Homo sapiens: one gene and its partners. The protein of the gene in region 4 interacts with the protein of the main gene of each other region in a pairwise test. Each region holds a gene or a part of one and is shown on either strand. Other genes may lie near its edges.

What was found.
Region 1: the proteins of ZNF398 (region 4) and MFAP1 interact in binary tests that used the Homo sapiens proteins (3 or more experiments, as listed by UniProt).
Region 2: the proteins of ZNF398 (region 4) and CABP5 interact in binary tests that used the Homo sapiens proteins (3 or more experiments, as listed by UniProt).
Region 3: the proteins of ZNF398 (region 4) and PLEKHF2 interact in binary tests that used the Homo sapiens proteins (3 or more experiments, as listed by UniProt).

What each region holds. Positions count from the first base shown.
Region 1 is NC_000015.10:43,813,704-43,821,690, reverse strand, and holds part of MFAP1 (microfibrillar-associated protein 1), read left to right. Parts: intron 1-4,242; coding exon 4,243-4,462; intron 4,463-6,616; coding exon 6,617-6,746; intron 6,747-7,002; coding exon 7,003-7,190; intron 7,191-7,987. UniProt on the Homo sapiens protein: Involved in pre-mRNA splicing as a component of the spliceosome.
Region 2 is NC_000019.10:48,040,367-48,049,065, forward strand, and holds the start of CABP5 (calcium-binding protein 5), read right to left. Parts: upstream 3,714-8,699; 5' UTR 3,557-3,713; coding exon 3,494-3,556; intron 1,238-3,493; coding exon 1,207-1,237; intron 383-1,206; coding exon 239-382; intron 1-238. Other genes in the region: PLA2G4C (cytosolic phospholipase A2 gamma isoform 2 precursor), read right to left, coding at 7,977-8,022. UniProt on the Homo sapiens protein: Inhibits calcium-dependent inactivation of L-type calcium channel and shifts voltage dependence of activation to more depolarized membrane potentials. Involved in the transmission of light signals.
Region 3 is NC_000008.11:95,150,454-95,157,841, forward strand, and holds the end of PLEKHF2 (pleckstrin homology domain-containing family F member 2), read left to right. Parts: intron 1-3,577; 5' UTR 3,578-3,591; coding exon 3,592-4,341; 3' UTR 4,342-6,232; downstream 6,233-7,388. UniProt on the Homo sapiens protein: May play a role in early endosome fusion upstream of RAB5, hence regulating receptor trafficking and fluid-phase transport. Enhances cellular sensitivity to TNF-induced apoptosis.
Region 4 is NC_000007.14:149,142,888-149,150,827, forward strand, and holds the start of ZNF398 (zinc finger protein 398), read left to right. Parts: upstream 1-4,565; 5' UTR 4,566-4,855; coding exon 4,856-4,879; exon of another isoform or gene 4,880-5,393; coding exon of another isoform or gene 5,394-5,396; intron 5,397-5,524; exon of another isoform or gene 5,525-5,629; intron 5,630-7,940. UniProt on the Homo sapiens protein: Functions as a transcriptional activator.

The DNA of each region.
Region 1 (7,987 bases), on a different chromosome or scaffold from region 4:
CGTCTTTAATCCATCTGGAATTTTTGTGTCTGTGGTGGAAGTTAGAGGTCTAATTTTACTATATGGTTGGCCAATTGTCCCTTCTCACCCCATCCATTTTCTACTGATTTTTAATGCCATCCCTATAATATACTCGAGTTCTCATATAAGTTTGTTTTTCTTTTCTCTGTTACATTGATCTCTGTGTACTTCCTGGGTCACTGACATATCTGGTAAACTATGCCCCACCCCTCCTTCCCCGCCCCCATCAGCTTTATTCTTCTTCAGCATTGTCTTGGCATTTTGGGGCCTCCTGTTCTTCCATATGATTTTGGAATAAGCCTGGAGACAACTTTTAATGGAATTGCATTAAAATGATAGATTATACATTTATAGGTTAATTCAGGTGCAGTTGCCATCTTCTCATCCTTGAACATGAAATATTTCTCTATTTACATCTTTTTTATCTTTCAATAAAATTACATATTTTTCCTCCTAAAAGCCTTGTACATTGTTTGTTGGATTTATTCCACAGTATCTTATAGATTACTTGTGACCGTTAATGGTATTTTAAAACTATATTTTCTTCAGCCTGGGCAACATAGCGAGACCCCAAAAAATACAGTGCTCTACAAAAAAACAAAATTACCTGGGTGGTACCTGTCTGTAGTCCCAGCTACTGAGAGGCTGAAGAGGGAGGCTCACTTTAGCCCAGGAGGTTGAGACTGCAGTGAGCTGTGATCATGCCACTGCACACCAGCCTGGGTAACAGAATGAGACCCTTTCTCAAACAGTAGAAAATAAGCCAGGCATGGTGGCTCACGCCTGTAATCCCAGCACTTTGGGAGGCCCTAGGCAAGAGGATCACTTGAGTCCAGGAGTTCAAGACCAGCATGGGCAGCATAGTGAGACCTCGTCTGTACAAAAAAATTTTAAAAATTAGACCGGCATGGTGTTGCACGCCTGTAGTCCCAGCTACTTGGGAGGCTGAGGCAGGAGAATGGTTTGAGCCTAGGAGGCTGACGCTGCGGTGAGCCATGATTGCGCCACCGCACTCCACCCTAGGCAACAGAGTGAGACCCTGTCTCAAGAAAATAAATAAAAATAAAATTGTACTTTCTAATTATATGTAGCTAATGTACAGGTATGCTTATTTTTATAAATAAGTTTTTTATCTAGCATTTTTTCTGAACTCTTTTATCTATTTGTTATCTTGTGTTTTCTACAAAGACAACCATATAATCTGCAAATTATGGCAGTTTCTTCCTTTTAAATCCTTATAACTTTTCCTTATTGCCCAAATTAGAACCATAATACAGTGTTGACTAGAAGGTGTGATAGGTACAACATTAGGATGCTCACTGGTTTTTTTTGTTGTTGTTGTTTGTTTTTTTTGAGATGGAGTCTTACCCTGTCGCCTAGGCTGGAGTGCAGTGGCGCGATCTCGGCTCACTGCAAGCTCCGCCCCTGGGTTCACACCATTCTCCTGCCTCAGCCTCTTGAGTAGCTGGGACTACAGGTGCGTGCCACCACACCCGGCTAATTTTTTGGTTTTTTGTTTTTTTGAGACGGAGTCTCGCTCTCTTGCCCAAGCTGGAGTGCAGTGGTGCTATCTCGCTCACTGCAAGCTCTGTGTCCCGGGTTCACGCCATTCTCCTGCCTCAGCCTCCCAAGTAGCTGGGACTACAGGCACTCGCCACCATGCCTGGCTAATTTTTTTGTCTTTTTAGTGGAGATGGGGTTTCACTGTGTTAGCCAGGATGTTCTCAATTTCCTGACGTTGTGATCCGTCCGCCTTGGCCTCCCAGAGTGCTGGGATTACAGGCGTGAGCCACCACACCCAGCTGGATGCCCACTGATTTTTAAAGAGAATGCTTCTGGCCAGTCACAGTGGCTCACACCTGAAATCCCAGCACTTTATGATACTGAGGCTGGCAGATCACCTGAGGTCAGGAGTTCAAGACCAGCCTGGCCTACATGTTGAAACCCTGTCTTTACTAAAAAATACACAAATTAGCCAGGCATGGTGGTGGGCACCTGTAATCCCAGCTACTCAGGAGCCTGAGGCAGGGAGAATTGCTTGAACCCAGGGGGCGGAGGTTGCAGTGAGCGGAGATCATGCCACTGCACTGCAGCCTGGGCAACAGAGCGAGACTCCATCTCAAAAAAAATAAATAAATAAATAAATAGAATGTTTCTATTGTTTTATCATTAAGTATAAAGTCTGCTGTATCTATTATTTTTTAAAAATGTGACTTTAAAAAATAGTAGGCTAGGAGAGATGGCTCACACCTGTAATCCTAGCACTTTGGGAGACTGAGGCTGGAGGATCACTTGAGGCCAGGAGTCCAAGGCCAGCTTGGGCAACATAGCAAGACCCTTTCTCTACCTTTTAAAAAATAACAAACAAAAATAAAATTTTAAAAAGTAAAAATAGTATATTGCTTCCCTCCCATTGTTCATCTATCTATCTATGTACATTTTTTTTTGGAATTTTGTTTTGTTTTGTTTTGTTTTTAAAGACAGAGTCTTACTGTGTTGCCCAGGCTGGAGTGCAGTAGCACGATCTCAGCTCACTGCAACCTCCACCTTCCAGGTTCAAGTTATTCTCCTGCCTCAGCCACCTGAGTAGCTTGGATTAAAAAGTCTGTGCCACCATGTCTGGCTAATTTTTGTATTTTTAGTAGAGACGGAGTTTTGCCATGTTGGGCAGGCTGGTCTCGAACTCCTAGCCTCAACTGATCTGCCCACCTTGGCTTTCCAAAGTGCTGGGATTACAAGCATGAGCCACTGTGCCCAGCTATATATATTTTTGTGTTTGACACAGGGTCTCACTCTATCACTCAGGCTAAAGTGAGTGCCTTGGTGTGGTCATGGCTTGCCGCAGCCTCAACCTCCTGGGCTCCAGTGATTCTCCCACCTCAGCCTCCCATGTAGCTTGGGACCACAGGCATATACCACTATGTCCGGGTAATTTTTTTTGTTTTTAGTAGAGATGAGGTCTAAACCCAGGCTGGTCTCGAACTCCTGGGTTTAAGCAATCCTCCTGCCTCAACCTTCCAAAATGCTGCGATTATAGGCATGAGCCACTGCACCTGGCCCCCTCATTAATTTTCTAAGGTCAAACTATCCTTCTAGTCTTGGGCTAAATTCTAATAAGTTGTGTTGGTCTAGGGGTTTTTTTTTTTTGTTTCTTTTTTTTTTTTTGGTAGTTTTTATATTGCTGGGATAAATTTGCTCTTACGTTATTTAGTATTTTTGTATTTGTGTTTGTAAGTGAAATCCACCTAAAGTTTTCCTTTGAACTGTCCAATTTGGTTATCAAGGTTATACTCATAAAATAAGTTGGTTAGTTTTCACTGTCTTTGTTCACTAGAATTGTTTGTATTTGTAGGCTGGGTGCTGTGGCTCACGCCTGTAATCCCAGCACTTTGGGAGGCTGAGGTGGGCGGATCATGAGGTCAGGAGATCGAGACCATCATGGCTAATACGGTGAAACCCCATCTCTACTAAAAATACAAAAAATTAGCTGGGCATGGTGGCATGCGTCTGTAGTCCCAGCTACTCAGGAAGCTGAGGCAGAAGAATCACTTGAACCCGGGAGGCGGAGGTTGCAGTGAGCCGAGACCACGCCACTGCACTCCAGCCTGGGCGACAGAGCGAGACTCCGTCTCAAAAAAAAAAAAAAAAAAAGAATTGTATTTGTAAGAGATTACATACTCTTGCATGTTTGATAACACATAAGGTAAAGGAAAAGAAGGTAGAAATAGGTAAGATTAGAATATTGAGTCATGTGGCAGTATGTTATAAAGGCTGCCATGGAAATTCCAGAGGGAACTACAAGAATGCCTGAGCAGTTTTATGTTCCTGCAGAAATTACCCTTACTATGTGCTGGGCACTGTTACAAATAATTTGTTTAAGGGTATAGTTGAGGTGGGATACCATGAATTTGTGATGGATGCAGTCTGCCTTTTTGGGGGGGGACTTTTTTCTACTGTTTCACTGCCTACCTTCCTCTACTTCATTGTACTCAAGGTAAGCCTCATTATCATCAGTGTTGGCTTTCACAAGGATGCAGTCTCATGACTTGGCCTTTGTAGGAAAACACCATTAGAAGAGTAGATGGTTGGGTAGTGGCTCTCTTCTTCTTCTGCTTAGACTCTTGTCTACTATGAATAAAGGGCTCTATTTGCAAAGGCCGTGATGGGTTGAAGCACATTGAGAAAGAGGCTACTGAAACATAAGTTACCTTTCTCGCCCAGGTGAGATTTCAATGGAAAAAGTGAAGGTAAAGCGTTATGTGTCCGGAAAAAGGCCAGACTATGCCCCTATGGAGTCCTCAGATGAGGAGGATGAAGAATTTCAGTTCATTAAGAAAGCCAAAGAACAAGAAGCAGAGCCTGAGGAACAGGAGGAGGATTCATCCAGTGACCCCCGGCTACGGCGTTTACAGAACCGTATTAGTGAAGATGTGGAAGAGAGGTAATGTCTGTGATTGTGTTTACTTGAACATGAACCTCTACAGCTTAATAATAATAATAATAGCTAATACTTGAATAGTACTACCAAGTAGATTACATTTGCTAATTCTTGTAATCCATACAATAACTTTATGAAATAGGTGCTATTATCCCCATTTCACAAAAGGAGGAAACTAAGAGCACAAAGGGGCTAAGAAAGTTACATGACCAAAGCTACAAAGTGGCAGCTTCAGGAAACAGCAGGTTACTTCTGGCCTAAAGGACCTACTCAACTCCTTATGGGAATAGAAAACACAGACCATTTGTTGGCTGTTGAGAGGAGTCTTTTTAGCACAAAGATGTTTTATAAACTTTGGTAAATTGATTTTATACATCTACTTATTCTAAATGCTAATAAGGGGAAATGACACTGAAGTAGGAGAAAAGACCTTATAAAGGTCTCATGGTAGAAAGAGAGCCTCCCAGTGAGGGATTTTGTATGTTATATATTGATGGAGACATTACTTTATAGAGTAGGCCAGGAGTCCTGAACTTTCACCGTTCATAATTGTCCCAGGAGTTTTTTCACAGAGCTCCTGGGCCAAAACAGTTCTGTTTATTTTAGTTATTAAGTAGTTAGAGCCAAGTAACTTAATAAGTATTTATGTCCTAATAACTTTGCCACTTGAAGATTAACAGTGCCCATGGCCAGGTGCGGTGGCTCACGCCTGTAATCCTAGCACTTTGGGAGGCTGAGGCGGGTGGATCACGAGGTCAGGAGTTCAAGACCAGCCTGGCCAACTTGGTAAAACCCCATCTCTACTAAAAATACAAAAAAATTAGCCAGGCCTGGTGGCGGGCACCTGTAATCCCAGCTACTTGGGAGGCTGAGGCAGAGAATTGCTTGAACCTGGCAGGCAGAGATTGCAGTGAGCCGAGATCACGCCACTGCACTCCAGCCTGGGTGACAAAGCGAGACTCCATCTCAAAAAAAAAAAAAGAAAAGAAAAAAGAAAAAAAAATAAAATTACAGTGCCCAGGGGGGAAAAAACACTTTTATTCATTCTCACATAACCATAGTTACTAGTGGAATTTGTTTGCCTGTTGGACACTGACAGCCTTTCAAACCTTGGAATCAGCACTGTCACTTTTTCATGTCTTGTTTTATATTGATTTTCATACTATACTTTCTTTTACTTTTTATCACAGCAGCCACCAAAACCCAGTTTCACAAAGACACGATATTCTCGAAAGGAATGTAGTGTGACTTAATGTTGAAAGTGAATTATCTTGAGCTATTAAAAATATTCCAATGCAGGCCAGGCTCAGTGACTCATGCCTGTAATCCCAGCACTTTGGGAGGCCTAGGCAGGCGGATCACCTGAGGTCAGGAGTTCAAGACTAGCCTGGCCAATATGGCGAAACTCCATCTCTACTAAAAATAAAAAAATTAGCTGGGTGTGGTGGTGCATGCCTGTAATCCCAGCTACTCGGGAGGCTGAGGCAGGGATTATCACTTGAACCTGGGAGGTGGAGGTTGTGGTGAGCCAAGATCATGCCCTTGCACTTCAGCCTGGGTGACAGAGTGAGATTCTGTCTCAAAAAAAAAAAAATCCCAATGCATCCCTATGAGTTTGCTGGCTTGCTGTGGTGCCCCAGGATGCCTCAACATACATTTAGTATTTCAGGCCCAACTTGACTATTCGCTCTGACATCCTAGTTTAGTTTCTTTAATCTGCACCTCAGTTTCCTCCACCTCAATACTTTAATACTGGATGGACATGGTGGCTCACACCTATAATCCCAGCACTTTGAGAGGCTGAGGTGGGCAGATTGCCTAAGTCCAGGAGTTCAAGACCAGCCTGGGCAACATGGTAAAACCCCGTCTCTACAAAAAATACAAATATTAGCCAGGTGTGGTGGCACGCCTATAGTCCCAGCTACTCAGGAGGCTGAGGTGGGAGGATCACTTGAGTCTGGGAGGCAGAGGTGGCAGTGAGCCAAGATCGCACCACTGCACTGCAGCCTGGGCGACAGAGCAAGACCCTGCCTCAAAAAAAAAAAAACTTCAGTATTAATGAAGGCAAACATAATGTGCTCTGTGGCTATGGAAATGCAGTTGATGCTACTTCATTTTTATGACATTGGTGTTACATTTGGAGATACTGTTTTTCAGATTGGCTCGACATCGAAAAATAGTGGAACCTGAAGTGGTAGGAGAGAGTGACTCAGAAGTAGAAGGAGATGCTTGGCGCATGGAACGAGAAGACAGCAGTGAAGAAGAGGAGGAGGAAATTGATGATGAGGTATGATAAAGGAACATGGGAAGTTTTTTTCTGGATATAAGAAAAAGTTCATGCCAGTGCTCATTTGTTGAAGCCTTAAAAACATGAGATCACTGCTTTGGCAGGACTCTGATCATGTTCCTTGTTTGTGGGGATAGGATTAAAAATAGAATGATACTAAGTTGTATCTTTTTACATTTGAATTTGTTGTGTTTGATGAGACGAACAAAAAGCCATAGGCCATTTGACTGACTGGCTTATATATATGACTTGATAGGAAATAGAGCGGCGGCGTGGCATGATGCGTCAGCGAGCACAGGAGAGAAAAAATGAAGAGATGGAAGTCATGGAAGTGGAAGATGAGGGTCGTTCTGGAGAGGAGTCAGAATCAGAGTCTGAGTATGAAGAGTACACAGACAGTGAAGATGAGATGGAGCCTCGCCTTAAGCCAGTCTTCATTCGAAAGTAAGTATCTCACAAGCCAGATCTGAATCCACTTAATTACCACTTTCCAGGCCTGGAGACAAAAGTCTGTTTTCTGTCTTGCTATTCTGAAATCTAAACGCTGAGTGAAAGTGCTTTTGCTAGTGCTCTACCCTTGGCAGACTAGCTGCTGAGGAATATCTTGGCGTTAGCAGAGAACCTGAGTTTGTTTTCACATCTCTTTTTTCAGTAATAGAGCATATATCTGTCCAAGGCCTTTTTTTGTTTGTTTGAGACAGAGTTTCGCTCTTGTTGCCCAGGCTGGAGTGCAATGGCATGATCTCGGCTCACCACAACCTCCACCTCCTGGTTTCAAGCAGTTCTGCCTCTGTCTCCCGAGTAGCTGGGATTACAGGCATGCGCCACCACGCCTGGCTAATTTTGTATTTTTAGTAGAGAGGGGGTTTTTCCATGTTGGTCAGGCTGGTCTCGAACTCCCAACCTCAGGTGATCCGTCCTCCTCAGCCTCCCAAAGTGCTAGGATTACAGGCATGAGCCACGGCACCAAGCCAAGGCCATATATTTTTAAGCACAAAATTAAACTCAACGAGCAAATTCCTATTCCTTTCCTGATGGCTAGAAATCCTACTGCTTAGAGGCCAGCAGGTTCTTTGCTGTCTAGGCAGTTCTCAAAGATGAACATGATTTTAGTCCTCTAAAGACCTGGGATGATGGCTGGGCACGGTGGCTCACGACTGTAATCCCAGCACTTTGGGAGGCTGAGGTAGGTGGATCAGGAGGTCAGGAGTTCAAGACCAGCCTAGCCAAGATGGTGAAAC
Region 2 (8,699 bases), on a different chromosome or scaffold from region 4:
AAATGACTGTAATTAGTAAATAATAGAACTGAGATTTGAACCCAGACCTATCTCTAAAAGCTTTTAACCACTTCAAATGCTGCCTTCCTGAGTCGAATCTGACCTGTTTTCTTCCAGACTTCTAGTCCCTCTCATCCTCCTCTCCACCCCCAACTCTACTCTTAACCTCTACATCCTTCCCAATTCTGCCCTGATCCCTTCCCTAACCCCGGCCATCCCTCCCATTCCCTGGACTCACGGTTCATGCGGATTTGCTGGCCGAGCTCAATCAGTTCCATCTCCGTGGGCATGTAACCCATCGTCCTCATGAGATTCCCCAGATCCTTACAAGAGATGAACCCATCTCGGTCCTTATCGAACTCAAGAAATGCTTCCCGCAGCTCTGAAAGTTAAGAGAGAACTTTGGGGGAACTTGAAGCAGTCAGTGGGGAAGAGTGGCATCTCTTGAAGCTATCAATGAGGCTCCAACTAGAGACTCCTTAAAGGAGCGTACATTAGAAACAAAACAAAACAAAACAAAAAAACCAAGGCCGGATGTGGTGGCTCATGGCTGTAATCCCAGCACTTTGGGAGGTCGAGGTGGGTGGATCACCTGAGGTGAGGAGTTTGAGGCCAGACTGACCAACATGGCAGAACCCCATCTCTACTAAATACAAAAAAATTAGCTGGGCATGGTGGCTCATGCCTTTGATCCCAGCTACTAGGGAGGCTGCCTCAGCCAAGGCAGAAGAATCGCTTGAACCTGGGAGGCGGAGGTAGCAGTGAGAGGAGATCGTGCCATTGCACTCCAGCCTGGCAACAAGAGCAAAACTCTGTCTCAAAAAAGAAAAAAAAATTCAAAAAGGAGTGATGTATGAAATGTGTTAGCAAAAGAGGCATCATTCCTGAGACCACTAAATGAGAGCACTGGCGTCCTTCAGATTCCTGGATGAAGTTATGGGGAACCTCAAAGTCACCAAGAGAGAAACTCATTTGTTTTCACTCCTGAGTCTTGGAGATACTTGAGGATGGATATGCCTTCGAAATACTTTGGGAAGTCCTTCAACTGCCACGAGAAAGAGTTCTACAAAATTACAGTTGAGTGGGAAGAGAGAGGGATTGTAAAAATTCCATGTAATGGAATTTATACGGAAATGCACAAAGGGACTGAGGGCAGGTCAGGTGGGTGGATGGCAACGTGGAAGCAACTGGGGAAGACGGTGTTACCTTCAATCTCATCTTGTCCCAGTGGTCTTTCCTGGAAAGGAATGCAGATGAGAGGGAATTTGGAGAGAGGGTCACCCATTCTCCAAAGGGTCTCCTTGTTCTCCCAAGCTCCTCCCCACGCTCTCGTGGTTCTCTTTCCATTCTCTCTCTCCTCCTCCATCCCTCCCATTCCTTTTCCCATCTCCTGACTCCTGTTCCACAGTTCTTGGCTCCCCACCCCCCTCTCGATGTCTCTCTCCCACCCACGAATCCCAATCTCCCTTTTTCTCCCTTTCTGAGACAAACACCCATCACATTGTGTCAAAGGGGGTCTTAAACACTGGGGAGTCCAATCTCCAGATGAAAAAAGTGAGACTTCACAACCACAGCTAACTCATTCAGAGTGGTGACTCTGTGCCAGGCAGTTTCCACAATCATTTCATTTAAACCTCAGTACTGCTCTGTGATGCAGATCTACATCTCGTTTCCATCTTACCCATGAGAAAGCTGAGGAACAGAGAGGTTAAGGAACCTGCACAAGGTCACACAGCTCACAAGCAGCAGATCCCCTCCCAAGGGAGGAAGGCATTCACCTGCTCCCTGGAGGTCATGGGGCAAGTCAGACACAGTATTGGGATTTGAATTCAGGGCTCCTGACTCCCAAGTCAGAATTCTTCACACTAGCCCCCATTCACTCCTTTCTCACCTGCCTCCAATCTTCCTGCCAAAGGTTAGAATCTCTGTGCATGGAAACAGCATTCAATGGCTTTCAGGCAGGAGGGTCAGTGCCAGCATGACCAGTTCCTAAACACTCTGAGAATGTCCAGTTATTGCTGCCCCACCTACTCCTGCACATACCTGAAGGGTTGGGCTTACATATACATGGCATGTTAACAAGGAAATTCTACTGACCTCTGGTCTCTTTAGCCTTCCCATCTCCCTTTATCCCTGGAGCCTTTCCCTCAGCTTCTCTTTCATCTGATCCCCTCCTTGCGGTCCCTTATCACCCTTTTTTTCATTCTCTCTCTCTTTTTTTTTTTTGAGACACAGTCTCGCTCTGTCACCCAAGCTGGAGTGCAGTGGCACGAACTCGGCTCACTGCAACCTCTGCCTCCCGGGTTCAAGCGATTCTCCTGCCTCAGCCTCCCGAGTAGCTGGGATTACAGGCGCCTGCCACTGCACCCGGCTAATTTTTGTATTTCTAATAGAGACAGGGTTTCACCATCTTGGCCAGGCTGGTCTTGACCTCCTGACCTCGTGATCCACCTGCTTTGGCCTCCCAAAGGGCTGGGATCACAGGCGTGAGCCACTGCCTGGCCTTTTTTATTCTCTTTTTTTGGTGATCTTAAAGCCTAACAATGAAAAGTATGCCCACATATCTGGACAAGTTGGTATATATGGAAAAATAAAAAAATTTTAAAAAGCATGCCCACAGGAATCAAGCAAACCCGACCCTGCCACTTACTTTTTTTTAACGAGACAAAGTCTCACTTTGTTGCCCAGGCTGGAGTGCAGTGGCATAATCAGGGCTCACTGCAGCCTCCACTTCCTGGGCTCAAGCGATCCTCCTGCCTCAGCCACCTGAGTAGCTGGGACTGCAGATGCATGCCACCATGCTGAGCTATTTTTTTGTATTTTTAGTAGAGATGGGGTCTTGTGTTTCCCAGGCTGGTCTCAAACTCCTGGACATAAGTGATCCTCCCGCCTCTGCCTCCCAAGATGCTGCGATTCAGGCATGAGCCACTATACTTGGCCGACCCTGCCACTTACTAACTGTGTAAGCTTAAGGCAAATGACTTCATGACTCAGAGCTTCACTTTCCTCACCTGTAAAATGGGAATGAAAGTCACTGACCTCATGAGTTGTTCTGAGGTGTAAATAACATCAGGTGTGCAAATCCCTTTGCACAGGGCTGGGCACAGAACAATGACTTAATAAGTGGCAGCTATTGTTATTAACGTCATCATTATCATCACCACCACCACCATCATCACCACCATTATCACAATGAGCATCCATAGAAAAGAATGATGGTAATCTCAACAATGACATCATCCCACTTTCCCTTTTCATTTTTCTTCCTTTTCTCTCCTTCTCTTTGCTCCTGACTTTTGATTTTACCCCCACCCATTTATCTCACTGGCTTACATGACCCCACCAGGGTCCTTGGAATTTCTTATACCTTCTCAGCTCCTGCTCTATCCACCTGTTCCCCTGGTTCTGTGGCACCATCATGTCCCCTTCTTTGTCCCACACCCCTGCTCCCTTTGCCCCGCCCACCGCCCTTCCCCCTCACTCCCCACCTCACCCGCTGTTTCTCAGCAATGCCTTTCCTCAAGAAGATGCAGGCGGGGCCCATGGGGAACTGCATGGAGGGGTGGGGTGGAGCTCGCAGGGCACCAGTCTCAAGATGGCCCCTCCTCCCTGCTCCCTGTCGGAGCTCAGCCTCCTTATCTTCTCCAGCACTCCTTTGCCACCTCTTCCTGCCTCTCTTGGCTTCTCCTTCGGTCCCGGTGTCTTAGAGCTGTGACAGCTGGGCTGGAAATCTCTACCCGGGTTGGGGAGGGACCAGAGCTGTCCCTGCCTCCCCATCTGGCTTGAATGATATGGGTGGGGAAATGCAGAGTCAGGTTCTGTGACGCCTTTATCCCCAGAGTGGAATTGGAAAGTGCATTTTATAAATGGGGATTAGAGGCTGGATGTGGTGCTCATGTCTGTAGTCCCAGCGCTTTGGGAGGCTGAGGTGGGAGGATTGCTTGAGCCCAGGAGTTTGAGACCAGCTGAGCAACATACGGAGAGGCTGTCTTTACAAAAAATAAAAAAATTAGCCGTGCATGGTGGCACACACCTGTAGTCCCAGCTGCTCCAAAGGCAGAGATGGGAGGATTGCTTGAGCCCAGGAGTTCAAGGCTGCAGTGAGCTATGATTGTACCATTGCACTCCAGGCTGCAGTGAACTACGATTGCACCATTGTACTCCAGCCTGGCTGACATAGTGAGACCCTGTCTCGAAAAAAAGAAAAAAAAAGAAAAAAAAGAAAAGAAAATGGAGGATTAGAGCAGACGGCATCATTTATTCAATGTTCCAACAAGCATGTGAAGGGTCACTCCAACACTGGCCTCTGGGCAGTGAGATGGAGAGCTCAGCACCCCTGGCCTCAGGGAGTTTTCCTGGGTGAGTCGGGAATGTGTGAGAGTGAGCAGGATGCAAGCATGGACTTCAGGAAGTGGGCGTACACGGTGACTAAGAGCATGGCATTTGCTCTTCCTCTGTTCATCTCTTTCCTTCTGTCTTTCCTGAATGATTTAGAGGGAAAAAGCAAGGTGGGGGTGTCAGGGAGGGTGTGAAGTTATGGTGGTGTCAAAGCCCAAAGGGGTTTTGCGACTCCACACTAGGTAGGGTTAGGGGAGGAGGGGGCTGGGGGCCATCTGGCGTGGAGAGCCAGCATTCCAGTGGGGTAGTGGGGTGAGGAGAAGTCCACATAGAGGGGCAGCATGACCCAGGGTGTTGGGGCTGGAGATGGTGGGGATAAATCCACAGATGGGCAGCTTGGTGTGCAGTGTTGGAACATGAGCTGAGTGGGGCGGGGGCATTTATATGCAGGCATTGTCTGGGGTGGAGGTTTGCACTGTAAGGCAATTAGGAAGGAGGCCACATAGAGGGGATCTGGCATGGGTTGTCATAACCCAAGCAGAGAGAGAAATGTCCACTCATGGGAATAGCATGGTGTATGGTGTTGAAGCCAGACTAGGCTGGGAAAGACATCCCCACAGGGGTGAAATGGCAAAGGAAAAGGGAAATTGGCTACACACAGTGAGTAAGGGGAATGGGGGCCAGGTCTCCTACTGTTGGAAAAGGGAGTTACTAAGACAGAAAGGAGGAAAGTCGAATGAGCCCTGTGGTGTTGGACTATAACTGGAGGCGTTGGTATGTCCTCATGGATCTCAATTATACATAGAGAGATAAAAATAAACACATAGTTTCAGTGTGTATAGGAACATTTGTACACATATTCTCTAGCTCTCTCCACTAAGAGAACATAGAAACAATGATGGCCCATATGAATGAGCACCACTAGCATCCAAATCTTGACTTCTATATACCATTCTCCACCAAATGGAACCAGAGTGCCTAGGAAATTTGGCTGATTCCATGTCTAGAGCAAAAAAAGAACAAGATGAGCCTACAAACGTCCTATGCTTAAAGCAAGAAATTGCTCAAAGTGTTGTGAGAACATGTGGAAAGAACACAGGAGTCTGCTTGAAGAAGCTCCATTGGCCATACTGGGCAGTTTGAGAGTCAAAATAAATAATGATAGTAACAAATTATACAGGACCACAGAAGAAACCAGGAGTCCATACTCAGATAAATAAAAAGCTAAGTGAGAAGTTTGATATTTACAGAGCTCAAAATACCTCCCTACAAAATACCAATTTCAAAGGAGTTACGTTATAGTGGAGAAACGTGGCAAACACCATCTTAGTCAATGAAAGTGGACATCATCAGTAATGTGACAAGTTGGAATTTCACACCACCTGACAGGATGTCACGAGAACAGCATCGCTTCTGTAAGATTCCTGAATCTCATCATAATCAGACGTCAGACGAACCCACATGGAGGGATGGTTTACAAAATAACTGGCCTGTAAGCTTCAAAAATGTCAAGGTCATGAAAATCAAGGAAAGATTGAGGAACCGTTCGAGATTGGAGGAGACTAAGAAGACATGGCCGAGGCTGGGCGCGATGGCTCACACCTGTAATCCCAGCAATTTGGGAGGCTGAGGTGGGCAGATCACCTGAGGTCAGGAGTTCGAGACCAGCCTAACCAACGTGGAGAAACCCCGTCTCTACTAAAAATACAAAAAAATTAGCCCGGCATGGTGGCACATGCCTGTAATCCCTGCTACTCGGGAGGCTGAGGCAGCAGAATCGCTTAAACCCAGGAGGCGGAGGTTGCAGTGAGCCCAAGATCGTGCCATTGCACTCCAGCCTGGGCAACAAGAGCAAAACTCTGTCCAAAAAAAAAAAAAAAAAAAAAAAAAAGCTACGACTGAATGCAACACAGAATTCTGAACAGGATCCTTCTGCTATCAAGGTCTTCTTTCGGATGACTGGTGGTTTGCTGGCAATAGTTTGGCGGCCCTTGGTCAGTAGAGCCTCACCCCAATCCCTGCTTCCATGTTCACATGGTTTCCTCTCTGTATACATGCCTGTCTCTGTCTTTAAATCCCCCCCCCTTTTTTAAAAGAATTTTATTTCAAATCTGGGATACATGTGCTGAACATGCAGGTTTATTACATAGGTATACATGTGCCATGCTGGTTTGCTGCACCAATCAACCCGTCACCTAGGTATTAAGCCCTGCATGCATTAGGTATTTGTCATAATGCTCTCCCTCCCCTAAATCCCCCCTTTTCTTTCCTTTTTTTTTTTTTTTTTTTTTTTTTTTTGAGACAGAGTCTTCACTCTGTCACCAGGCTGGAGTGCAGTGGCATGATTTGGCTCACTGCAAGCTCCACCTCCTGGGTTCAAGCGGTTCTCCTGCCTCAGCCTCCCGAGTAGCTGGGACTATAGGTGTGTGCCACCATGCCCAGCTAATTTTTGTATTTTTAGTAGAGATGAGGTTTCACCATGTTGGTCAGGATGGTATCAATCTCTTGACTTTGTGATCCACCTGCCTCGGCCTCCCAAAGTGCTGGGAGTACAGGCGTGAGCCACTGCGCCCGGCGAAATCTCTCCTTTTCATAAGGACACTAGTCATTGTGGATTAGGGTCCACACGAGTGACCTCATCTTCACTTGATGACATTGGTAAAGACCTTATTTCCATGCAAGGTCACATTCACAGGCACTGGGGGTTACAATGGCCACATCTTTTGGTGGGGGTGGGACACACAATTCATCCCATAACAGTCCTGCTTTAATTCTGGAAAGCCTGTATGAATAATAATTGCTCTGGAACTCCGTCGGTGCCAGACTAACTATTCTAAGGTCTTGAGACTCATGAACTCATTTAAGCCTTTCTAGGATACAGGCTCCGTGATGGTCTATTCTACAGACGATGGAACTGGGGCATGGAGGCGAAGGCTCTTGCCCATGTTCTCATGGTAAGCAGATAACAGAAGTAAGATCCAAACCCAGCTGTGGAACCACCATGCTTAATTGCTGAGATATAGATGGAAGAAGATGGAAAGGAAAGGGGGAAGGGAAGAAAGGAACAAGTAAAGGGTACACAGAGGGTGAAAAGGGCCGCAGCAGGGGTGGTGGCAGACCAAGACACACACACACAGCTAATCCATCAGTCAATCAGCAAGCATTTATTGAGCACTTGTTGTATTCTCAGAGCTCCACTTGGCTGTGGAGAGATAGCCCATGATTTAAGCCCAAGTTCTTACTTCTACAGAGCTAACTTGTGCAGAGCTACTGGCTAGAAGTGCAGTCATAAAGGAGCAGTGGAAGGCATTGGTCTGAACTATCACATTCATTCTGGCCATCTGGACATTGGACATGATGCTTCTGATTGTCAGACACTCATGCTCCAGCTCCAGGATCTCCCGAGGGACCTGCAGGACAAATTTCACCACCTTCAGCTCCTTGGACGCCTTCTTCTGAATGACGCTATCAAAATCACAGTCTAGCTGGTCACTGGTGATTGGCCCTGTTAGGACAGCCAAGGTGAACTCAAGGCCATGAAGCGTGTGGCTGAAGGGAGTGAAGAACAGGAAGGCCAGGTGGACATCAGGGCCCTAGTAGACCAACAGGCCCACAGTGCCCTGGAAGCTGAGGCTCATCTATGCCAAGCAGCAACTTCGGGCACTATCCTTCGGGTAGTAGAGCCTGGGGAGAAAGGAAAGTTAGAAGTTACCACTGTGCTTTGTAGGCAGTGTTGCACACTGGATAAGATTAGAAGACCTGGAAGCCTCTACAGGTCATACATGACTTAGGAGAAAGACATTCATCCATTCTTTCATTCATTGAGAAGACCTGGAGCTCCACCACCTCCTCCTGTGGAGCTCTTGTGATCTACTTTTACCACGTAAACGTTTATTTATCCAACACTACGCTTATTAAGCATGTATCAGGAGCTGGGCTAGGAGGTAACTCTTTGGCCTACATCGAATGTCATGATACCTGCCAGAATTCACAAGATCTGATCTCTGTCCATCTCTCCAATCACATTTCATTCCGTGCTTCCCCTACCCTGATCCAGCAATAACAGCTTTCCTTCTGTTCCTCGAATAGACTGATATAGTTTGGAAATTCGTCCCCTCCAAATCTCATGTTGAAATGTGATCCCCAGTGTTGGAGGTGGGGCCCAGAGGGAGATGTTTGGATCATGGGAGTGGATCCTTCATGAATGGGTTGGTGCCTTCCCTGCGGTAATGAGTGAGTTCTTGCTCTATTAGTTCACTTGAGATCTGGTTGTTAAAAGGAAACTGGTGCTTTCCTCCCTTCTCTCTCTCTTGCTCTCTCTCACCATGTAACACGCCAGCCCCCCTTCCCCTTCCACCAGG
Region 3 (7,388 bases), on a different chromosome or scaffold from region 4:
ATAATTATACGAGTGTTTGTAACCTTGCAATATAAAATGTGTTTATGTTGGTCATTGTCAAACTTTGAAAGCTATTTGCTTTGCTGCAGCCAAATACTAATTAATAATGCCCCAAACCTTGCTTAAGTTGCATCATTATTAAACAGGGAGAAAGATTTATGAACAAAGATTTAGACTTAATATATTGAAACATTTGGACAATGAAAGATTATCAAGACACCAGCTGGGTAAATCATGACATATCCATCCTTTCAGGTGATTTGTTCAAGGTAGTATTCCCTTATCTTCAGTATTTTTAGGGTTTGCAATGAAGGTCCAGAGGTTAGTTAATAGCTTCCTTAGAGTTCTTGTAGATTCAGTGGAGTTCTTAGGAACAATTAGTGTACCATAACATACTGTAACATCACAGAGAAATCAGATTTGAGGCTTGTTCTGCTGTGACAGCCTTGGGCAAGTTATTTAACCCCTCTTTGGCTGTTTACTCATCCATAAAATGGAGCTAATAGTGCATGTATCATAAGGTTGCTGTGAGGAGGAAATACAGTAATAAGTGCAAAGTGCTCAGCACATTGGTTGGACTCCCTATGAGTAGAGTTCATTCCAGGTTAAGTTTTGCTTTTACATTATTAAATATCTTTGTGCCTTAATTTCTTCATCAGCTCACAGTTCAGCTAATATTATTAGATGCTTCTTTGGGGGACAATAAAAACTTCTCTAGTAACTTCATAGGCATTTCAAACAGTTCAAATCAGAAAATAATATGAAAAGCACAGTACAAATTTATGATAGTATTAATTCTCATAGTAGCAATAATAGGAAATCTGTTTGTGTTGTATATGAGTTAATAACGATATGTTCAAATGGGTGGACTCAGTAGTTGATTCAGGTGGAGAGAAATAGATCCTTTCAGTTTTTTTTTTAAAGTGCCAATGTCTTTTCCTGTTTTAGGGCCTTTGCAGTTACTCCTTTTGTCTGGAATATTCTCCCCTATCCTTACCCCTTCTTATGTCTGTCCATCTAGTACAGCTGAAATGACAACATTGTAGAAAGGCCTTTCCTGACCATGTAGTCTGAATAGCTCTCAGTTTCTTTTAAAAATCACTTTAAAAAAAAAATCATAGCATTGATTAGTACTAGATTTCAATTTTGTTTTCTCTTTCCTTCTCTCCAACTAGAATGTAAACCCTGAAGAGCAGGGACCTTGCCTGTATTGTTTAATTTATTATTTTTTAAAATTTTTATCTGTTGTCACATACTCAAGTATGATCGCCTGTGGTGTTTATTTTTACTTTTCCTGCACCTAGATCCTAAGTGCCTGACAAATACTTGTGGAATGCTTGAATATAATGTAAAGTATGAAAAAATGATCCATAATTATACTTTCCAGAGATAAATTACCATTGTTGATAGTATAGTATATATTTTTTAACTTTATGTTGTGTGTGTGCTTACAGATACAGATGTCTATGATTATGCTTTTGAAATATGTATTCCATTGAGTCTAAAGATAAACATTTTTTACTATATGTATTTGAAATTGGTCTTATAATCAACGGTATGCTGTGGTTTAATTGGCAACATTTTTCTCTTTATGAGTTGCACATAAATATGTCTTAAAATCTATAGCACCTTAGATGTGATGAAATGTGGTATTTATTTGAAATAAAAATGAGATCAGGAAGTTCATCTCTTTTCCCCACCTAAAGATCTTGAGCATTTCCCTTGTCACTGGTTTTAGATCTGTCTTATTCTCAAGATATATGATTAAGGGTGTGTCATAACTTTTTCAATCAGTTCCTCTTGATGGCTATTTGGAGCTTTTCCAATTGTTTTCCTGTTATAAACAATGCTGTGCTGATTATCCTTGTATATATCTCTATGCACGTGAGTGAAATTTATTTAATTAGATTGGTGAATACACATATTCTCTGTAGTGTACAAGGGTACCTATTTCCCTATACCTTTATGAGTACTGAATCTTAGTAAATTTAAAAATTTTTATTAATCTAAGTGAAAAATATACTAATGTTTAATATAATTTCTTTAATTATGATAGAGATTGAAACCTCTTTTCCTGTTTATTAGCCGTTTTTATTTCCTTTTCTGTGATGTACTTGTGCATAGGATAGTAGGCTTTTAATTGGCTGGCATATTAGTCCTAATTAGAAACCTTTCCAGTTTGGAACCATGCATTATCCTATTAATTCTTGGGAACAACTTTTAGGCCTGCTACATCCTACTTTTGTGGAGGACAAGAGGGCTTTATAAGGACCCAAGATTTGCAGGGAGACAGAATTCAGAAATAACCAGAATTCTAGTGTCCTTTATAATGAAGGCCAAGAAGGGCTATAGTGTCAGTTTTTGAGCTGAATACTGGAACTTACATACTATGCTGTTAGTCTTTAAACTTTAAATGGTCTTCTTCTCAAGGCTTGTTGTTCTTTAATATGACTTGGTTATAGTATAGTAGTATTAGTTTAGTAGGTTTGAAATAGGATACAACTCTGGGACTTGAGTGAAGTCAATATTGGACTTAGAGATTAAATGTTTAGATTAATAGGGTGTTTTGCACATTGTTAAAATGTTATTAACATTTTTTAGTACCTTTTCTGTGTCAAACCGTATCAGTTTCAAACAAAACTATCAGATGATCTCTGCTTTTTAGGTTCTGCATGGTCTCTGGAGGAACAGATTTCAGTCCTTTGGTAAAAGTGAAGCTAGAATATACATGGAATATGGATAGCTCACAGGAAGGGTTTTAGTCTAGCATGGGAGTTTAAAGGAGGCTTCCTGGAGGAGACACGATTACCTAAACTAAGTCTCGAAGGATGAATATGAGTTAGCTGCAGTAGTAAGTAGTAAAAGGAACAACAGTGAAATGGACTACAAGTAGTAGAGTGTTCTTAGAATATGACATTTGAGGTGAAGACTGACTTATGGTGAGGTTGGAGTGACAAGAACCAAGTAATGAAAGGCCGTGAACACCCTGTATTTAATAGGTTAAGGGATCATTTTGAGCAATGATGGGGTCAAATTAGGGTTTTAGAGATCACTGCCCAAAGATTGATTTGGGGGCAAGATTGAAGGCCAGGACACATGTTGGGAAACAGTTCTAGTAATCCAGGTGAGAGAATTAAGGCTGTAGCTCAGTGGTAATAGCTTACTTGGAAAATTGTAGTCATTTTTCTTAGTTTATGTAACATTTTGTTCCCTATTGTTCAGAATCCCATTGAGATTACATTTCATTGAATGGGGTTTATTATTTTGCAGAGATAAGTTATGTTAATTATCCAATCGTCTTTCATTCAATTATGTCTGTAGGAAGTTTATACTTTTACAAATACCTGCTTAACTAGTATGGTGCTACGTGGAGATGATAAATAAGTGTTTTTCATCATTTTAAAAATTGAGAAATGTTAGCCCTTTTGATGTGCTTAGTGATTATCTTAGAGGGAAAGAATTTTAGAACATTTTGCCTTTGTGTAAAAGCAATGATTTGTTAGCTTAATTTATATATAATTAACTTATAGGAATTTATAATTTATATGTGCTAATTTCTTTTTCTTTTTTTTAAAAGGCTATTAGTGAAAGATGGTGGATCGCTTGGCAAACAGTGAAGCAAATACTAGACGTATAAGTATAGTGGAAAACTGTTTTGGAGCAGCTGGTCAACCTTTAACTATACCTGGACGAGTTCTTATTGGAGAAGGAGTATTGACTAAGTTGTGCAGGAAAAAGCCCAAAGCAAGGCAGTTTTTCTTGTTTAATGATATTCTTGTATATGGCAATATTGTCATCCAGAAGAAAAAATATAACAAACAACATATTATTCCCCTGGAAAATGTCACTATTGATTCCATCAAAGATGAGGGAGACTTAAGGAATGGATGGCTAATCAAGACACCAACTAAATCTTTTGCAGTTTATGCTGCCACTGCTACGGAGAAATCAGAATGGATGAATCATATAAATAAATGTGTTACTGATTTACTCTCCAAAAGTGGGAAGACACCCAGTAATGAACATGCTGCTGTCTGGGTTCCTGACTCTGAGGCAACTGTATGTATGCGTTGTCAGAAAGCAAAATTCACACCTGTTAATCGTCGCCACCATTGCCGCAAATGTGGTTTTGTTGTCTGTGGGCCCTGCTCTGAAAAGAGATTTCTTCTTCCCAGCCAGTCCTCTAAGCCTGTGCGGATTTGTGACTTCTGCTATGACCTGCTTTCTGCTGGGGACATGGCCACATGCCAGCCTGCTAGATCAGACTCTTACAGCCAGTCATTGAAGTCTCCTTTAAATGATATGTCTGATGATGATGACGATGATGATAGCAGTGACTAAGGACACATTTGGGAGTATTTAATCAGGTGTGGCTATCTGAGAAATCAACTTTGGGGGAAATGTAAGATTCTGAGCTCTCTCTCTGTTTTGTTCTAGCCATGAATTTGCCTGAGAAACTTGTAACCTATGTGCCTCAATATATTCCATAGAAAGTAGGTCCCCCTGCCTTCTCCCACTCCTCACACTCTTCTACAGGGATAGGCTTTTGCAAATATATCAGATAAATTTTTTGTTTCTTGTTTATTTTTAGGTTATTTTCTTGGAAGGTTGGGAAAAGATGTTTGTTTTAACAGGTCATGTACTACGTTGTTGTTTTCATTTCTGTTATAAGTAAAACTAAAAGCACAGAATGGTGGGAAAGGGGCTATAATGTGGTTCATTAATAATGTTAGCAGCTTTTTTCTAACCATCCTGTCTAATGGTTAAGACACCAGTAACAAAAACACATGATTTGGAAATACTTTGGCTTTTTCATATACCTAGTGGTGCCTTATCATAATAGCACTGTTACATGAAATAAGCCCCTACCTTCTTACTTTCTGGTTTGTTGAAAAAATACACTGGTGCTCTTTGAAGTGATAAAATGAGTGTTTATGAATGGGTGTAATTAGGAAATACTTCTCATCTGACAGCTACAAATAACTAAGTTTGGAGGTATTTTCACTCTATATGAATAAATATTTTTCCATAAAATAGTTGTGATTATATTTTTGTTTTATATAGGTCCCAAATTATAATTGTCAAATATATATTTTAAATTAATAAAAGTTGTCATTCTTAGGAATTTGGTTTGAAATTTATCAGTTATACAGAATTGTCATACTGCATTAGCTTCTACCTTTAGTAAGACATATTTTTTAGGTATAAATTCTTATGCTTTAACATTATTTCTGGATTGAAAATCTTATAAAACCCTTGAAAATAAACAGTCTCTTTTTTACAAAGCCTGTGTTAGAGCACAGATTTACCTAGGCTTGAAGATTTGGAAGAAATAATATGTAAGAATGGCCTCAAGGCAGACCACTTTAAGTTTGGCTAGACTTCATATCGTGGAAGTATTGTCTATTTCAGTGTGAAACTATCTTGAATTTGCAAATATAGTGTTATATTTTATAAAGTTTTGTAAAATCCCAAACAATATTTCTATTTTTGTAAAACAATTGTATGTATAATCTGTATTTGAAATCATTTTGCAATCTATGGAAATAGAGTAGCAATTGCTATTTCTAAATTGTGAACTTTAAGTCAATCTAGATTTATTTTGAGAAGTAATTGTTCACTCTTTACTTTTGAGGCAGCCATTAGGTTGAAAGTATATATTTATCATATAAAACTTGATGCGTTTTGCACTACTCTTTCCATTTATATGCTGCAAACAACTACAGTCTTTGAAATATGGAAAATCAGCAGTCTAAAGTTTGTTTTAAATTCTAAATTTAAAAAATCTTCAAATCTGAATATACCGCAAATGTCATGAGAAGTTTGATTCAGTAACTTGTGATGGAGGATTCTTTGGTATCTTACTGTTTGGTTAAGGCACTAATTTTACTTACCTATTAGATTTTGAAAGTATCTGAGATATACAAATCTCCCTGTAGGAAATGTGAAAGAAAAGCACAACAAAACTAGGGTTTTTTGTTCATTTGCTTGCTTTTATGATTTTTTTTGGTTTGTTTTAATATCAGGTGGATTTTTGTTTCTAAGCAATATATACATAAAATCAACCAACATATCTGAAAAGGATCATGAAACCTGAGAAATGCTAATGGAGATTTGCTGGTACATAGGAATCTAGCAAATTCAGGAACCAAGGGGAAATGTTGTGAGATAACATTTACATTGTCAACCTTTATTGACTTTGTTTTTACAATAAAAAATATTTTACAACTTACTTTCTGTTCTCTGTATATTGTGACTTGAGGATTTACCCCCTCTGCTAAGATAATAAAGATATTATGCATATTTTGCCTAATAATTCAACAACTGTGAGTGCCTGCTATGTGCCAGGCATTGTTCTAGGCAGTAGGTTAGAGCAGTGAACAAAACTCCCTTTTGGATTTACCGCACGAAGGCTCAGAAAACATTCTTCCAAGTGTTGAAGATATGGCTTAATGTTACTGGGAAGTGCCTTAATATAATTTGGCTTTGCTGTCCAATTACTGTTAGAAGGAATGACTTGACCTGAATTGACATGTCTCAGAAGGAAACATACACATGGCTGACAGGTATATGAAGAAATGTCCAAGATCACTAATCATCAGGGAAATGCAAATTAAAACCACAATGAGATAATGGTAATACCTGATACCTGTTGAATGACTTATCAAAAAGATGAAAGAAGTGTTGGCAAGGATATGCAGAAAAGGAGACCCTTGCACACTGTTGGGAATGTAAAGTAGCACAGCCATTATGGAAAACAGTAGAGGTTCCTCAAAAAGTGAAAATAGAACTACCTATAGCATCTAGCAATCCCACTACTAAGTATATATTAATATCTGAAGAAAATGAGTATGTTGAAGAGATAATCTGTACTCCCATGTTCATTGCAGCAGCATTCACAGTAGCCAAGATATGGAATCAACCTAAGTGTCTATCAACAAATGAATGGATAAAGAAAAGGTGGTCTGTATACACAGTGGAATATTAGCCATAAAAAATTAAATCCTGTTACTTGTGACAACATGGATGGAACTGATGGACATTAAGTGAAATATGCCAGGCACAGAAAGACAAATACTTCATGATCTTGCTTATATGGTGTGGAATCTAAAAAAGTTGAGCTTATAGAACCAGGAGTAGAATGATGATTACCAGGGGCTGGTTGAGGGGTTGGGGGTGGGAGATGCTGGCCAAAGGATACAAAATTTCAGGAGAAATAAATTCAACAAATCTATTGTACAATATGATGACTATAGTTAATAACAATGTATCCTTGGAAATCAGCGTAGATTTTGTGTTCTCACCACAGAAACTGATGAGTATGTGATGTTAATTCGCTCAATTTGGCCATTCTGCAATGTATCCATCTTTCAAAACAAATACACAGT
Region 4 (7,940 bases):
AAATACAGTAAAGGCTATGAGCACAAGCACACTATAGTTTGTTCCCATCTTCAGTTTTACATTCAGAAAACAGGTATAGCTTCATGTATGTTATTTTATTGATCGATGATTGATTAGTATAGTGGCATGATCTCGGCTCCCTGCAAACTCAACCTCCCAGGCTCAGGTGATTCTCCCACATCTAGCTTAATGTATTAATGATGTAATAGACAATTACTGGCCAGGCGCGGTGGCCAGAGCGAGACTCCATCTCAAAAAAGAAAAGAAAAGAAAATTACTGGCGGCAAGCAGGAACATTGTAGATTTTGAAACTGTCTTGTTTTACAAGATACTGAAGCAAGGTGGTGCAATTATTACGTCCTTCTAAAGCTGATCGGATAAAGGCTTTAATTTTGTAATTTTCAGAGAATATTACCAATGTAGCAAGATTTACCAATAACCAATGGTTGCTTGAAGACAAAAGAGTTTGTTGGAACTTGCTGAATAAATTGATGTGCCATCAGTGTATTTTTTACATCATACATGCTGAAAAAAATCTGTCCTTGATTCTGTGCAAAGGAAGATGCTGAAATTGGTGTGCATATGCAGGGAAAGTCAAGATGCAGATGGAAACTGGGATTATTTTGTTAACTCAAAAACCAATTGGCAGGGTGCGGTGGCTCACGCCTGTAATCCCAGCACTCTGGGAGGCCGAGGTGGGCAGATCACCTGAGGTCAGTAGTTCGAGACCAGCCTGGCCAACATGGTGATACCTCGTCTCTACTTAAAATACAAAATTAGCCCCCATGGTGGCGCATGCCTGTAATCCCAGCTACTTGGGAGGCTGAGGCAGGAGAATCACTTGAACCCGGGAGGCAGAGGTTCCAGTGAGCAGAGATTGCGCCATTCCACTCTAGTCTGGGCAACAAGAGTAAAAACTCCATCTCAAAAAACAAACAAACAACCCCCCAAAAAAGCCAATTAAATTGTTTCATAGTCACATTTCTAGATCCAAACTTTTAGGACAATTTTTTTCTCTAGTGATTATGTATAGCAGCAAGAGCAGACAAAAATATTATAAATTAAAAATAAGTTAGTACAACAACCTTACATCTGCTTCTGAAAATATTGTGCATCTTCTTTAAACAGTACACAAAAAGCTTCAGTCAGTGAAATTGCTTAATGAAATGCCAGTACCATCCAAAGAATTTTTAAGGCCAAGAATTAAATAGGAAGAATTTCTTGTCTTAATATATTCCTATTCAAGGAAGGAACATTTAATAAGTTGGTGGTAATATTACCATATTAAAGCAGAGAGGTAGCCTTGCTTTCTATGGAGCTCAGTTGGAAGTCTTATTTAGTAATACAAATGTCCCTGTTAAATGGCCATAGGAGCATCTGACAGAAATTGTTGTTCTTGCCTTATAACATCAAACTTGAAAACTTTACTACTTTTTTTTTGGAGATGGGATGTCAGTCTGTCGCCCAGGCTGGAGTGCAGTGGTATTATTACAGCTCACTGCAGCTTCAACCTCCCTGGCTCAAGTGATCTTACCTCAGCCTCCCGAGTAACTGGGTCGACAGGTGTGCATTACCATTTCAGGCTAATTTTTGTATTTTTTTATGGAGACAGGGTCCCACCAGGTTGCCCTGACTGGCCTTGAATTCTTGGGCTCCAACAATCTACCCACCTCGGCCTCCCACTGTGCTCGGCTACTACATTTTTTTTTTTCTTTTTTGAGATGGAGTTTCACTCTTGTTTCCCAGGCTGGAGTGCAATGGTGCAATCTCCGCTCACTGCAACCTCCTCCTCCTAGGTTCAAGTGATTCTCCTACCTCAGCCTCCTGAGTAGCTAGGATTATAGGCACCCACGACCACGCCCGGCTAGTTTTTCTATTTTTAGTAGAGATGGGGTTTCACCGTGTTGTTCAGGCTGGTCTCCAACTCCTGACCTTAGGCGATCCACCCACCTCGGCCTCCCAAAGTGCTGGGATTATAGGCGTGAGTCACCGTGCCCGGCTTCTCGGCTACTACATTTTAAATAATAAAATTATACAACAGAATTTTCTTTCCAAGAAAATTCAGATTATTATTTTTTTGTAATCTACTCATATTGTGAGTCAGAGAATGGCAATTTTCATTATTAAGCATTCACCATCTGACAAATATGTATATTCAGGTAAATCCCAAATTACGGACTGCATATGTAGCCACAGGCGAAAAGTAACTTAGTCTGCTCAAGAGCAGTTGCCCCAACAGGATAGTTCTCATACTTTTGTGATTTACAGATAGTTATACTGTTATGGGCATTGACTTGATTCATGTGTTGAAATACAGGTTTAGCAGGGTTTGATTCATACATGTTTGAAATGAAGACTTCCTGGAAAACCAGGGTCATGTGCTTATCCTATCACCACACACATGAAACCGCCCCAACAGGGTTCACAAAAATTGCATGCAGGTTCTGGACAGAAATATAGTTATAATTAAGCATTAATCAGGCTGCACTTCGGCCTACTTCCTTGTTGCTAATAGTCACAAGGCACTAGATACTGACATTTGCATCTCTATTGTTCCTATAGATAGGATTTCAGACATCAGACTAAGAATTGATTTGCATCCCTGTTGTTCCTGTAGACAGGATCTCTGACATTAGAATCATAAGGCTTTTGTTTAAGGATCGCTTAAGATGTTTTTCAGACCACGAGTTCCGGTGAAACAGTTGAGTTCAACCAGTTTGAAGACCCCCCACAGAGGAATGGGATGAGCATGAGAATGTAGTTTCTTCATCTCCTTGTACCACGATTTCACCAGCACTCTCCCACCAATCAGTCAACTCCATTACCCTTACAAACTCTAACCCCAAATTCCCAAATTCCTAGCAGAGATGGATGTGAGGCTTCTTCCTGTCTCCTCCTTAGGTGGCCCTATGATTAGACCTCTTTCTCTGCTGCAACCTGGTGTCTCTGCATATAGACTTGCTATGTGCATTGGGCAAGGAACCTACTGCTGTTACACACACTCTGTTGACTTAAAACACAACCTCACCAGAAAACACTTTGTTCTCGCAGGTCCTTTTTTTTTTTTTTTTTTTTTAAGATGGAGTCTAGCTCTGTCGCCCAGGGTGGAGTGCAGTGCTGCCATCTCTGCTCACTGCAACCTCCGCCTCCTGGGTTCCAGCGATTCTCTTGCCTCAGCCTCCGGAGCAGCTGGAATATCAGGTGCACGACACCACGCCCGGCTAATTTTTGTATTTTTTAGTAGAGACGGGGTTTCACCATGTTGGCCAGGCTGGTCTGGAACTCAGGTGATCTGCCCGCCTCGGCCTCCCAAAGTGCTGGAATTACAGGCGTGAGCCACTGCGCTCGGCCTGTTCTCGCAGGTCCTTTTGCTCAGACGCAGCAAACCGTAACCCCAAGCTCGATCTCTGCTGCTCTCAGGAATTCCACTTCCTCCAGCTTGGGCAACATAGCGAGACCCTGTCTCTACAGAAAAATAAATAAGTAAATAAATAAATACAAATAAATAAAACATTAGCCGGGCTTGGTAGCTGCGCCTGTAGTCCAAGATGCTCGGGCAGGCTGAGGGGAAGGATCGTTTGAGCCCAGCAGTTTAAGGCTGCAGTGAGCCTTGTTTGTGCCACTTGCACTCCAGCCTGGACGACAGAGGGAGACTGTCTCTAAATAAATCAATAAATAAGGCCGGGCGCAATGGCTCACGCTTGTAATCCTAGCACTTTGGGAGGCCAAGGCGGGTGGATCATTTGAGGTCAGGAGTTTCAGACCAGCCTGGCCAACATGGTGAAACCCCGTCTCCACTTAAAAAAAAAAAAATTAGCTGGGCATGGTGGTACATGCCTGTAATCCCAGCTACTTGGGAGGCAAAGGCAGGAGAATCGGTTGAACCCGGAAGGCGGTTGCAGTGAGCCGAGATCCCGCCACTGCACTCCAGCCTGGGCGACGGAGTGAGACTCCGTCTCTAAATAAATAAATAAACAAAAATTAAGAATCCTATTTCCAGACCAGGCCCCGGAGAGTCAATAATCCGAGATGTGAAGGAGACCTTAAAATATTATTGATCCCAACACAGGCCGCGTGGGACCTGAACCGCCTCACCTTGGCAACCACATTTGTAATTTCCGCAAATGATCTATATCTTCTTCATTCCAAAATTGTGCCTCTCCGTCACTCATTCCACCCATAGGCTCCCTTCAGCCGTGTCCCCCTTACTCTCACCCTGCACATTTCCGCTGTTCTAAATACGGCTGCCCTTCAGCAGAAGCTGTTGCCTGCAGACGGCGCCTGCGTATCGAGCCTCCGTGAAGAAAATCACTCCCCAGAATGAGCCCGGCTTTGCGGCTGGGTCCTAAACTGCGGTGAGCTGAACCTTCTCGTGGGAATGTGAGAAAGCGGAACACACGTGGGCCCCAAATAACAACCCTCCCCACACCGAAGCCCAAGAGCTGGGGGGGAGGGGCGGAGGCGACGCGGGGGGCGCTGGCCGCAGGGGCCGGCAGGGGGCGCGCTGGCCGCGGTGGCTGGGCAGCGCGAGCCTGCGGCGCGTCTAGGCCCGCGCGGTTCCCGGTGCACTCGCTGCCCACAAAGCGCCAGCTGAGGGGCCGCTGCGGGTGGAGTGCGGCGGAGTCGGCCTCGCGACCCCAGCTTGATCCGCCGCCTGCTGCACCGCGCCTCCGCCGCGTTCCTGCGCGTCCCGAGCCCCGACGGCCGCGTGAGTCCCGTCCGTGCGGGGAAGGCAGGGCCGGGTCGGCGCCGCCTGTGGAGAGGACCCGGCGGCCGGGCCTGCTTGGAGCCGGGCGCGGTGGCAGCGGCGGCAGCGGCGGCGACTTCCGAGGCCCGGGCTAGACAGCGCAGGGCCATGGCTGAGGCGGCCCCGGCCCCGGTAAGGGCGGCCGCGCGCGAGTGTTGTGAGCCCCCGAGACCCAGACCCCGAGGGAGGAAGGCGGGCGGGCAGGGAGCTGCCAGGCATAGGCGCCGTTCTCGGGTCCCGCCGGCCACGTCGCCTGTCGCCCGTGCTTGGCGGCTGCAGCCTCGCGTGAGGGGACTTAGCGGGTGGGTGTGAAACCGCCCACCCGGGGACACCAGGCTGGGCCGCAGGTCTGAGGGGCACTCGCAGGCAGCTATGAGACCCGGGGCCCTGCAGTTGGGTTGAAGTCGAGGGGGTGCCTGCTGCGTGTCAGCCCCACGCCTGCCCGCCAGACGCGCAGCGGGGTTGGGCTGGGGAGCCGTCAGCCATTCTCGCGGCCGCGGGAGCGTTCGTCACCAGCAATCTGAGCGGTGGCGCGGGCGGCATTTAAGTGTGCGGAGGCGCATTCCCGCCGCGCTGCGTGACGCCTGGGCTCCCGGCACCGGACTCGGGACACGCGGGAGGCCCTCCCGAAATAGCTGCCGAATGAATGGTGCGGACCCGGAGGCTGGAGTGGCCTCGCGTGCGTGGCGGTTCATTCGCGGGTGTTTGCCAAGGCCTGCGGGGGCCGGCAGCGGCCAGTTGCCAGGGCGACCGAGGCGACCGGGCCGCGCCTGCACGCAGCCCCGTAGAATGAGAAGGGGACGGTCAGGCCGCGGGGAAAGCACTGATCGCATTTGCCACCCAAGAGGTCTTTGGTCACCTCTAGGAGAGCAATTGTACTGGGTCAGGAGCCACCCTGGCACATGAGGGGTGACTGGGAAAAGGAGGAAGAGCAGCGATGGGTAGGGGGTAGAGCAGAGGGAAGTGCCACCTCCACTCTTGGACCTGTTTTTCTTTTTTCCAACCTTTTTTTTTGTGTATAGGTGGGATGGTAGCGATGATCCTGTGTTGTGCCAGTCCTGGCTAATAGAAATATAAGGGAAGCCGCATACAAAACTCTAAATCAAGCTTGTCCAACCCGCGGCCCCCAGGCCGCATGCGGACTAGGACTGCTTTAAATGCGGCCCAACACAAATTCGTAAACTTTCCTAGAACATCATGAGATTTATGCACGGACCTTTTTCTTTGTCTTTTTTTTTTTTTTTTTTTTTTTTTTTTAGCTCATCAGCTATCATGATCAGTATTTTATGTGTGACCCAAGACAGTTCTTCCAGTGTGGCCCAGGGAAGCCAAAAGATTGGACACCCCTGCTTAAATTCTCTAGGCGTCACGTTTAAAAAGTAAAAAGCCAGGCGCTGTGTTGTGCACGCCTGTAGTCCCAGCTAGGCCGGGGGCTGAGGCGGAAGAATCACTTGAGTCCAGGAGTTCGAGGCAGTCCACACCGCGTCTCTAAAATAAAAAAAATTTTTGAGAAGTTAAAAAATAAATAGATGAAATTAATTTTAATTATATATCTAACTCAATATATGCAAAATATTATTTCAACATGTCATCAATTTATTTATTTATTTATTTTTTGAGGTGGAGTCTCACTCTGTCCCTCAGGCTGGAGTGCAGTGGCGCCATCTGGGCTCACTGCAACTTCTGCCTTGCCGGTTCAAGCGATTCTCCTGCCTCAGCCTCCCGAGTAGCTGGGACTACAGGCGCGTGCCACTACGCCCGGGTCCTTTTGTATTTTTAGTAGAGAGGGGGGTTTCACCGTGTTTGCCGGGATGGTCTCAATCTCCTGACCTCGTGATCCGCCCGCTGGGATCCAAAGTGCTGGGATTACAGGCGTGAGCCACCGCGCCCGGCCTCATGTAATCGATTTAAAACATTAATGGCCGGGTGTGGTGGCTCAAGCCTGTTATCCCAAGCACTTCAGGAGGCTGCCGTGGGAAGACAGCTTTAGCCCAGGAGTTGAAGACCAGCCTGGGCAACATAGGAAGACCCCATCTCTACAAAAAAAATTTTTTTTTTTAAATTAGCCAGGCGTGGTGGCATGCACTTGTACTCCCAGCTACTCAGGAGGTGGGAGGTGTTTGAGCCAGGGAGGTGGAGGCTGCAGTGAGCTGTGATCCTGCCACTGCCCTCCAACCTGGGCAACAAAGTGAAACCCTGTCTCAAGCAAACAAACAAATATTTTTTTCATACTAAGTCTTCAAAGTCTCGTGTATTTTATACTCATAGCACATCTCAATTTAACCACATTTCAGGTGCTCAGTGGCCACATGTAGGTAGTGGCTACTGTATTGAACAGTGCCAGTCCACCCTATGGAGAAGAATCAGGAGACAGATTGACACTAAGAAAGGAACAACCTACCCAAAAAGGTGGAAGGGGTTGGCATAAGTGAAGCAAATGTGGAGAGTTAAGATTTAAATAGGATGCAACTTCCTTAGGAAGTAAAGAAGAAAACTTAGATTCGGTTACTGATAAGTTTGAAGCAAGGAGTATGAAGAGAAAGTTGAATGAATTTAGGTCTGATTAATTTCCATCTCAAAGCAAGAGGACATGTCATCTTCTGAGAGTGGGGGCTGCAGCAGACAAGTCTTACTACTCAGTGTCAGCATCACCTGGGAATTTGTTAAAAATACAAAATCTCAGGCTGTGTACCATGGCTCACACCTGTAATCCCAGCACTTTGGGAGGCTGAGGCAGGTGGATCACTTGAGCTGAGTAGTTTGAGACCAGCCTAGGCAATATGGTGAAACCCTGTCTCTACCAAAAATACAAAAATTAGCAGGGCATGGTGGTGTGTGCCTGTGGTCCCGGCTACTCGGGAGGCTGAGATGGGAGAATCGCTTGAGCCCATGAGATGGAGGTTGCGGTAAGCTGAGATTACACCACTGCACTCCAGCCTGGGTGACAGTGAGACCTCATCCCAAAAAAACAAAAACAAAACCCAACAGAATCTCAGTTTTCCTTACAGACCTACTGAATAAAAATCTGTACTTTGACAAGATCTCCAGGTGATTCTTCCCCGCCTCCCGCGCCCCCCCGCCTCCCCTCCTGCCCTAGACAGAGTCTTGCTCTGTCACCATGCTGGAGTGCAGTGGCACGATTTCAGCTCACTGCAACTTCCGCCTCCTGGGTTCAAGTGATTCTCTAGCCTCA